Linked DNA regions of Homo sapiens. The protein of the gene in region 1 interacts with the protein of each later gene in a pairwise test. Each region holds a gene or a part of one and is shown in the gene's direction. Other genes may lie near its edges.

The links.
Region 2: the proteins of PRKAA2 (region 1) and STAC2 interact in binary tests that used the Homo sapiens proteins (3 or more experiments, as listed by UniProt).
Region 3: the proteins of PRKAA2 (region 1) and KIF24 interact in binary tests that used the Homo sapiens proteins (3 or more experiments, as listed by UniProt).

What each region holds. Positions count from the first base shown.
Region 1 is NC_000001.11:56,713,555-56,715,970, forward strand, and holds the end of PRKAA2 (5'-AMP-activated protein kinase catalytic subunit alpha-2), read left to right. Parts: 3' UTR 1-1,781; downstream 1,782-2,416. UniProt on the Homo sapiens protein: Catalytic subunit of AMP-activated protein kinase (AMPK), an energy sensor protein kinase that plays a key role in regulating cellular energy metabolism.
Region 2 is NC_000017.11:39,219,351-39,223,005, reverse strand, and holds part of STAC2 (SH3 and cysteine-rich domain-containing protein 2), read left to right. Parts: intron 1-3,655. UniProt on the Homo sapiens protein: Plays a redundant role in promoting the expression of calcium channel CACNA1S at the cell membrane, and thereby contributes to increased channel activity. Slows down the inactivation rate of the calcium channel CACNA1C.
Region 3 is NC_000009.12:34,319,253-34,322,907, reverse strand, and holds part of KIF24 (kinesin-like protein KIF24), read left to right. Parts: intron 1-3,284; exon of another isoform or gene 3,285-3,400; coding exon of another isoform or gene 3,401-3,468; intron 3,469-3,655. UniProt on the Homo sapiens protein: Microtubule-dependent motor protein that acts as a negative regulator of ciliogenesis by mediating recruitment of CCP110 to mother centriole in cycling cells, leading to restrict nucleation of cilia at centrioles.

The sequences.
Region 1 (2,416 bases):
ATATCCTGGCATGAAAACTTTTTTGAATAATACGTAGAATTTTGACAAGGTTCATACAGTGCATACAGTGTGACCTTTTCTGAGGTGGGCAGGGAGGGTTGCTACGTTGTGTTGATTTAAAATTTCAAGGAGGAACAAAAACATTCTAGCCAAGGAGAATTGCATTGTTATTTTTTTTTCTACTAATTTAAACGTGCATTTTTCACAGTTACACATTTAAGTTTTGCTACCAAAAATGGCCATTTTTCTAGACAGATAACATTTTCCTAAAGTGGAAGAGAGATCCACTGTTCTAAAAAAAAAAAAAAAAAAAAACACTAAATTGTGCCTTCTCCCTTAAATTATAAGAAGAGTAATAGTAAAAACTTGTTTAAACTATATTTTCTTTTTTTCTAATCCCTCTCAGTTCTCCTTAGATCTGCCTCCTACAAATGATCATGTTGTTTGCATCTGCCTGATTGAGTTCCCTTGGTCAAACCTCTCCCTATCACTATCAGAAGTTGTTCACTAAATGTATTTTCCTATTTCTTTCATGTTGATTGACTTTATAAGTCACCTTGGTAAACATAACATTTGGCTACCTTCTCATGCTTTATAAATGAATTTGATGAATGGCAGTTTTTATATTTTAACCCTTTAAAAAGTTTGTCAAGGAAACAACTCAGAGCTAAGAACAAAATCTAACTTGGAATCAGTTTCTTCCTTTGGCTGCTGAAGCAGCAGCAAGTCACGTAACCTCATTTAGTTTTTTGATTTACAAAATGTGGATAATAACCTACCTCACAGATGTGTGTGAGCAACTGTTTGAAAGCCCTTGTTTAAATACAGGGTTTATATCCCCACATTCAATGTAAATTCCTTTTTTTAAAAAAAATAAGTATCTTTGATACTGATAGGATGAGTATCTTGATTTTTAGGTAAGATCACAGTTTCACAAATTGTGGTGTTGTTAGGTGACATTTAATATTTCTTGAGACCTCAAGTATTCAAATATCAAACTTGTCCTGTGTTGTAACAAATATTCAGAATCTCTTAAAATGTTGGCTGAAGCTGCCTTAATGTACCAAAATACAGCTCTCAAGACTGTTCACAAATATCTGTGGTTGTACAATGTTTTGAACATTTAATGTAAAGTTGTTGTAGAACTGTGAACTCTAAGGATAGTATCTTTATTGTTTTAGGAAGAATGGTTGTGTTCTTTGTCATGTATGCTTAAATATACAGTGGATTTTGAATGCAACAAATAAAACTGAAAACAGCCATTTGGTTGTGTCATGACAATCATAATATAGGATATAATATTTACTTTTTTTCAAAAACATCCTGCATTCATTCATTCTTAGCATACCTTTGAAAAAGAAAAAAAAATCCATAGGTTGATACATTGACCCATTGAAGTACTTCATTACGTATTTATTGAAAATTTTTTTTAATTGTTGAAATTGGGACCACTTTTTATAATTGGTTTCAAGAAAAAAAAATGAACAGACTTCCAGTGCTTTTCTGTTCAAATAAACTCCGATTCAAATTTCAGTTTTGTTTGTTATATACTTTTTGTGAGTGTTAAATGATATGGGAAGGATTTGTCTTTCATTAACCATATGGAAAAGATGTCTTCCTGAATTACATAGCATTTCATAGTTACAGATTCTTCCTAATTAATGTTTGCACCATATGAAACTCATAGGTAACAAACACAAAGGAGAAAAGCAGCCTGTCTGATTGCTTATAAGCTTTTTTCACAAAATCAAATTAAAAGTCTCTGATTCATTTGAAAGCTATTTTTGTTTCTGCTCCATCATTATGCTGGTATTCTGCACACCAACTAATAGTTACAGGAAAGTTGTTAGTGGAAAAGATTGCCTATACTCATTGGTGATTTCACACCATCTTTTTTCATTTTTGTCATCTTAGTTGTACATTATAGTTTTTAACTTGAGTTATTGCATTGGTTTTCTACTGTTGCTGTAACAAATTACTACAAACTTAACGACTTAAAATACAAATTATTTTATTGTTCTATATGTTAGAAACCCAGCAGGCTTAGCTGGTTTTTCTGCCTCAAGTCACACAAGCTGAAAACCAAAGCATTGATAGGGCTGGGCTGTGGAGGAGAATCTGTTTCCAGTTGCATTGAGTTGTTGGCAGAATTTCATTCCATGGTGCTGTAGGATTGAGGTCCCTGTTGCCTTTTTGGCTGTTGGCTAGGAATCATTTAAAGCTTCTAGAGGCCATCATCCCTTGGCCCTTGGCTCCCTTCATCTTCAAAACCAGCAACAAGTGGCTTATGGGTTGGATCTCTTCTTCCTTCTCTTCAACTACATGTTTCTGACTTGCTGAGACTGACTTTACTGCCTTCCTTTTCAAATTTTAAGGGCTTATGTGATTAAGTTGGGCCCACCTGGACTATGTGCTT
Region 2 (3,655 bases), on another chromosome or scaffold:
TCCCTTCTTATCACATAAGGCCTGCCCATCACCCTTTGTTGCCACCCCTGGGAGGACCACCCCATGCCATCTCTGCTGTGAGTCAGCTTGTGCCACGTCTGCCACCACCCACTGCCAGATGCCTCATGCCCTTTCAGGAGACGCCGTGGGGAATTGAGGAAATAAGGGGCCGTCCAGGATATGGGGAGGTGGGGAGGAAACAGGCAGGCCAGGCCCTGTCTCTGGGAGGGGATTCAGAAGAACAGACTTTGTGGTCCAGGCTCCTAGCTGGACAAACTCTGGATGCGTTGGGAGGGAAGAGTGACCAGGCAGGCCCACTTGCCAAGGTACATGGCAGCTTCTCCCCATGCCAGAGAATGGGTCCCAGGGAAGTGAGGGCACCAAAAGTATAGTGGGGAGAAGAGATGGGCAAAGGTCCTCTCCAGGAATGAGGAGCCCCAGGAGCCGGAATACCTGGCCTGGCTGAGCCAAAATGTGGTTTGGGTAGCCAAGCCCGATGTCTCTGAAGTGGTCAGGCATCAAGTCATTTGGCAGAGATGCCCCAACCCAGACCTGTAGCCACAGTCTGATCTCTGCCAGCCACCCCAGGTGGCATGTCATTCCTTCTCGCTTCTCCACCCCCCTGGGATCTGGGGCCCACAGCCAAGCCAGGGAGTCGGCCGGCAGAGTCGGGGCTGCCCTGGTACCCGGGAACATTCTGTTCCAGAGGCCTCCGGTACCTAGCAGAGGTGGCTCTTGGCACTGAGACCAAGGGGTACCAGGAAAGGACACAGCCTGGAGGGTAGGGAGACTTGGAACCTCCTCCTATGAGGATTACTATGGAAACAAGGGCCTGGGGATGGGGGGAACATGACTGATGGTGTCTTCAAATATTTGAAGGGCTGAAGTGTATGAGAGGGAGTAGCCCTTTCTGGAGCCAAGGGAGGAAGGAGGGCTGATAGGCGAAAATCCCAGGGAGGCAGGTTTCAGCTCTATATGGGGAAGCACTTTGCAGCCATTGGAGCTGCCCAAAGATGGAATGACTGTCCCAAGAGACTGCTTGCTTCCCATCACAAGAGGTGACCAACTCTTGAGACGGGATGTGGCCAGGCCATCGCAGGGTGATGAGTTGGGGACTGCTCTAGGTGGCCAGTCTTCCAGGTCCCTTCTCACCCTAAACTCTCTGATTGACCTTGTGGACAAGCCCCTGGCCCAGCTGAGAGGTGAGGGTGATGGCCCAGGCAGGGCCCAGCTGAGAGGCGAGGGTGAGGCCCAGGCAGGGCCCAGCTGAGAGGCGAGGGTGAGGCCCATGCAGGGCTCAGCACAGCAGGATGCTCCTGGTGCTTTGGGCTCAGCAGCCGAAGCCGCTGGTTCAAGTCCTGGCTCTGCTGTTTACCAGCTGAGGACTCCTGGGTAAGTGATTTAACCCTTATAAGCCTCAGTTCCTCATCTGAAAAGTGGGACAGTAATTATCACTACTTCCAAGGGCAGCATCAGGATTAATGAGATGCTGCATATAAAGTGCTAGCTCAATTCCAATGTTCTGACCATGACAGCCCCTCAGAGATGTAAGTTTCTGGGGATATTTGGACCTAGAGCCTTTTATTGGTTAGAGAGTGTCCAGTCTTGGCCAGGCGCGGTGGCTGACGCCTGTAATCCCAGCACTTTGGGAGGCCAAGGTGGGCGGATCATGAGGTCAGGAGTTCGAGAGCAGCCTAGCCAATACGGTGAAACCCCATCTCTACTAAAAAAAAATACAAAAAATTAGCCAGGTGTGGTGACAGGCGCCTGTAATCCCATCTACTTGGGAGGCTGAGGCAGGAGAATCGCTTGAACCTGGGAGGTGGAGGTTACAGTGAGCTGAGACCGTGCCACTGCACTCCAGCCTGGGCAACAAAGCAAGACTCCGTCTCAAAAAAATAAAAACAAGAGGGCAGGCATGGTGGCTCACGCCTGTAATCCTAGCACTTTGGGAGGCCGAAACAGGCGGATCACGAGGTCAGGAGATCGAGACCATCCTGCCTAACACGGTGAAACCCCGTCTCTACTAAAAATACAAAAAATTAGCCAGGCGTGGTGGCGGGCGCCTGTAGTCCTAGCTACTCGGGAGGCTGAGGCAGGAGAATGGCGTGTACCCGGGAGGCGGAGCTTGCAGTGAGCCAAGATTGCACCACTGCACTCCAGCCTGGGCGACAGAGTGAAACTCCGTCTCAAAATAAATAAATAAATAAGTAAAATAAAAAATAAAAATGATAGGCCGGGTGCAGTGGCTCACGCCTGTAATCCCAACACTTTGGGAGGCCGAGGCGGGCAAATCACGAGGTCAGGAGATCAAGACCATCATGGCTAACACAGTGAAACCCCGCCTCTATTAAAAATACAAAATTAGCCGGGCATGGTGGCAGGAGCCTGTAGTCCCAGCTACTTGGGAGGCTGAGGCAGGAGAATCACTTGAACCCAGGAGGTGGAGGTTGCAGTGAGCTGAGATCGTGCCACTGCACTCCAGCCTGGGTGACAGAGTGAGACTCCATCAAAAAAAAAAAAGAGTATCTAGGCTTCCCTCTTGGATGTGGGGAAACTGAGGCTCAGAGAGAAGAAGTGGGGTGATTTGCCTTCAGGCAGTAGGTTTAGTTTTGCCCCCAGCCCCAGCACATCCTCCGGCGACCCTGTGTGCTCCATGCCTGAGGTCCCTGGACAGAACAGTGGACGGTTCACCTGCCTCTTGGGGCCCATCCAAGCCCCCAGAGCCACACTTGGTCCTGGCTGGCCCAGAGCCTGACCTGGGCTGAGTTTTGTGTTCTCATTAATTGTCTCTCCAGCCTTCTACCTATGCTCCAAGGCCCAGGCATCTGGGGCCTGGGGCCTTGCTTCTCATAGATACACAAAGAAGCCCACAGTGCTATCCAGGAAGCTGGGTTTGGAAGGCACTGAGCCCTTCAGTGTGCCAGACACCCCAGGGCTTTGGCCTCCCAACTGGCACACCAGAGCCTGCCTTGTGCCCAAACATCCCCTCTGCTTCCCCCTCTGTCTTGCTGCCTGCTGGCCTCCCGGAGGCTGGTGGGGCCACCACTTCCATCCCCTTGGCAGGGTGGCCAGGCAGGCAGCCATGGCACGTAGGCTACCCAGCGTGCCAGCTGGGAACCCTGGCCAAGTCCCTCTGCCTGGAGCCAGGCTGCTGGCCCCTGTTTCTGTCTCTAATAGAAAGGAGTGGGCAGGGGTAAGCCGCCTCTCAACGGGAAGGGAGACGGCCAAGGCTCTGGGTCAAGAGGTTTCCAGACCTCTCTCTGGGAAGACTCAGTAGGGTGTGTTTGAATGAGAGGTGGAAATAGCTCTGGCCTCACCGCAGAATCGACCCTGCCCTCCAGAATGTAGGCTTCAAGGAGAGTCCAGCCGCTGGCTCATGTATTCACCAAAGGCTGCTGATTGAGCACCTACTATGTGTTGAGAGCCTGCGTGGGGATTTGAAGCCAGCAACTGTGTCCGTCCCCAAGGGGCTCACAATCTCCTGGGGGAGTGAGAAATAAATAACAAGCATCACCCGAGTGGAGCTGTGGTGGAAGTTGGGCTGGATGCAGTGGACACCAGAGGAGGGAGTGGGTCATGAGACAGAATTCCTGCAGAAGAGAGTTCCTGGAGGAGGAAGGACCAGTGGAAGCATATTGGCAGGATAAAGAGG
Region 3 (3,655 bases), on another chromosome or scaffold:
TGATTGAAAATGCTGATTTTCTTTTGTATCAGTTTCTTTAATTTGTTTTTTGGAGACGGAGTCTCACTCTGTTGCCCAGGCTGGAGTGCAGTGGCGCAATCTTGGCTCACTGCAACCTCCGCCTCCCAGGCTCAAGCAGTACCCCGCAATATCAGCCTCCCAAGTAGCTGTGACTAAAGGCATACATCACCACACCCAGCCAATTTTTATATTTTTTGTAGAGATGGAGTTTCACCATGTCGTCCAGGCTGGTCTCAAACTCCTGGGCTTAAGGGATCCAACCACCTTGGCCTCCCCAAGTGCTGTGATTATAGGCATGAGCCACAGTGCCTGGCCTTGTATCAGTTTCTAATAGTCCAGCGGGCCCAGTGACTTTGTTAGCAACTTCTTTAAAAGTGATTATTATTAGGCTGGGTGCAGTGGCTCATGCCTGTCCTAGCACTTTAGGAGGCCAAGGCAGGAGGATTACTTGAACTCAGGAGTTTGAGACCAGCCTGGGCAACATTGAGACCTCATCTCTTAAAAAAAAAAGTGATCATTATTAGTGTTTGTCTAGGGCTAGATGGGTTGGGGGGAAATTGGGAGTGACTACCACTGGGTACTGGGTTTCTTAATGTAAATGAATAAAGTTGGTTGCTATAAAGGGACTAGGAGCAGGCAGGACCATGGGGTGTATTAGAAGAGTATATGCCCTTCTAAAGGGGACAGCCACTACTCTGTTTTGGTCTACTACTTCCTTATCTAATTGCAGGCCCGATATAACTACATCTTTTAATTTTCAGGAAAAGCAGGAACTGGGTATTTTTAATTGCTCCTAATTTTTTAAACAGTACAACAAATTAAAAAAAAATTTAAACACTTTGCAAGCCAGACTGCAAAATATGAAGATAATCCTTCATGGACCAAATATTATAGGCTAGATCAGCTACAGATTAGATTATCTCTGTTGACCTGGCTAGCTGTAGGACTCCTTTTAAAAAAATCTTACAAAAATATAATGTAGGACAGGCACAGTGGCTCATGCCTGTAATCCCAACACTTTGGGGGCTGAGGCAAGAGGATCGCTTGAGCCCAGGAGTTCCAGACCAGCCTGGGCAACATAGGGAGACCTCATCTCTACAAAAAATAAAAAAATTAGTCAGGTTTGGTGGCATGCACCTGTAGTCCCAGCTACTTGGGAGACTGAAGCAGGAGGATTGGTTGAGCCCAGGAGTTTGTGACTACAGTGAGCCGTGATTGCACCACTGTACTCCAGCCTGGGCGACAGAGTGAGACGCTTTCTCTAAAAAAAAAAAAAAAAAAAAGAAGAAGTATGTATGTATGTATAGCTTTTTTTTTTTTTTTAATGCTATCGGTAGATCACTGTGCCTGTTTTGTTCCAGACACTTAGTGGGTGCGTTACAGAACCTGTCTCCTGCAAATGCGTAATCAGTACACTTGTAGAGAGTACTTTAACATATCTAATTTTACTGTCAATGCCTGTATACATTATTTCAATTTTAAACTTGAAGAAGCAGAGACTCATAGATGTTAAATAATTTGACCATGTATCACACCTGGTTCTTAGCAGAGACTGACTGAGTCCTCGGTTTTTTTTTGCCTCCTAATCTAGTAATCTGCTATACTAGTTACTACTGCGCAAACACTTTGGTAGTCTACTGACAGATATTTGAAATAAAAATCTTATTTAACATCTTGAAATAGAAAAAATAAACCATGTAGGTATTTTGCTCCCTGTTCAATTCCATCTCCCTCCCTACAGAATAAGAATGTGTTTGGTGGCAGTGGTAGTTTAAGGGCCTATGTTTATTGGATGTCTCTGATGTGTTATACCAGTGCTTTAGTGTTAGTTACCTTCTGAATCTAGTGACATGTCAATAATTATGTTAATCTATTTCTAAGAAGGATGGAGGGAGGTCTTACAATAAAATACGTAACTACAAAGAAAACAGTGAATAAAAATAAAAGCACACATTTGAACAATGCAGATATAGCTAAGTACATGGAGAAGGGTCATTATCCTGGTAAGCCTGTCTAAAGAGATCTAGAGCAAAAATCCTGGGGTACAGGTAAAATAAAGGTCATTTCAGTAACATTTTGGCAACCTGAATTCAAACATACTTAAATTTGTGGAAAGAGAAAAATTAGTTTAGGTCCTCCCCTCTCCCCTCCTTCCCAAGGGAGATCTGTAGCTATTTGTAGGTTATAGCCTTTTTCTTTTTTTCCTTTTTTTTTTTTTTTTTTTTTTTGAGAAGGAGTTTGATTCTTGTCACCCAGGCTGAAGTGCAGTGGTGCAATCTTGGCTCACTGCAACCTCCGCCTCCTGGGTTCAAGAGATTCTCCTGCCTCGGCCTCCCGAGTAGCTGGGATTACAGGTGCCCGCCACCATGCCCAGCTAATTTTTGTATTTTTAGTAGAGATGGGGTTTCGCCATGTTGGCCAGGCTGGTCTCGAACCCCTGATCTCAGGTGATCCGCTTGCCTCTGCTTCCCAAAGTGCTGGGATTACAGGCACGAGCCACCCTGCCTGGCTGGTTATAGCCTATTTCTTTTCTTTTTCTTTTTTTTTTTTTTTTGTTGGAACATTTTATTGAAAAGAAAAACTGTATAAATAAGTTCTTGGTTTGATAGTAACAAAGGCTTATGTTCCCCCTTCCCTCCCCATCTTTGAAGAACTAAAAAAGAAACAAAAAGTTCATCCCCATGACGCCATTCTTGACCAGAGTCTGCCCAGAAGCCTGTCCTGTGAGCTCTTTCTCGATCTGCCTCAATGGGGCCAGGTCATTCTGGGGATGCCTGGTCCCAGGGGCTGCAGCACCTAGTTTTGTAGTTGGGAGAGACTGGGATAGAGCTGGGGAGGTGGCTGAGGTGGTTTAGTGTCAGGAGAAGAGGGCTGGCTGACCCCCCTAGCTCCATTTGGTCTCACAGGTGAGAAGGTACTTGGCTATAAATATGAACACTGATTGAGGCAGGCTTGATCTGGGACTTTGAGGGCAGGCAGGATGATTATGGCCCAGGTACCACAGGATGTGGAGTTTCTGGGCTCAGCATCATGGTATCTGGGGCCCACGTCCAAGTGGAGTAAATTCTAGCTGGGAAGGGCCGTTCAAGCACACGGGAACCCTGGTTTGTTTGTCCACCCCCACCCATGGAGTATCCAAGCTGGTACCTCACCTCCCCCGAATCCCAGTAGCACCCATGTGTCTCAGAAGCCTTTGGCTGCCTCCTGCCATCCTGTGTGCACCCTGAGGCCCTAAAACTCGTCTTGCATCTTGTCAACCTTAGGCCGGACCAGGTGCCCAGTGAACAGCAGGGAGCCGCTCTGGGTGTCCCACACCAGGAAGATGAAGGGGTGGTCGGAGTAGAACAGCTTGGGGCTGCGCAGCTCCTTGCTCCCATAGATGTCCTGGTCAAAGGAGTTGCCGTCTGTGTCCAACTCAAAGGCGGTGGCGTGGAACACGCTGGTCAGGTACAGGTCCTTCTTGTGTGGCATGCGTGACAAGTTTGCCTTGTTCTTGTCAATGGCCTCAGTCAGGCCAAGCCTAGCCAGGAGTTTCTGCAGGTCATGGGAACTTCCACCACCCGCTTGGGCAAGGAGATGGCGACAGGCTTCTGCTTCTTCCCCATCCAGATCTTCAGCTGCTCTTTGGTTACCA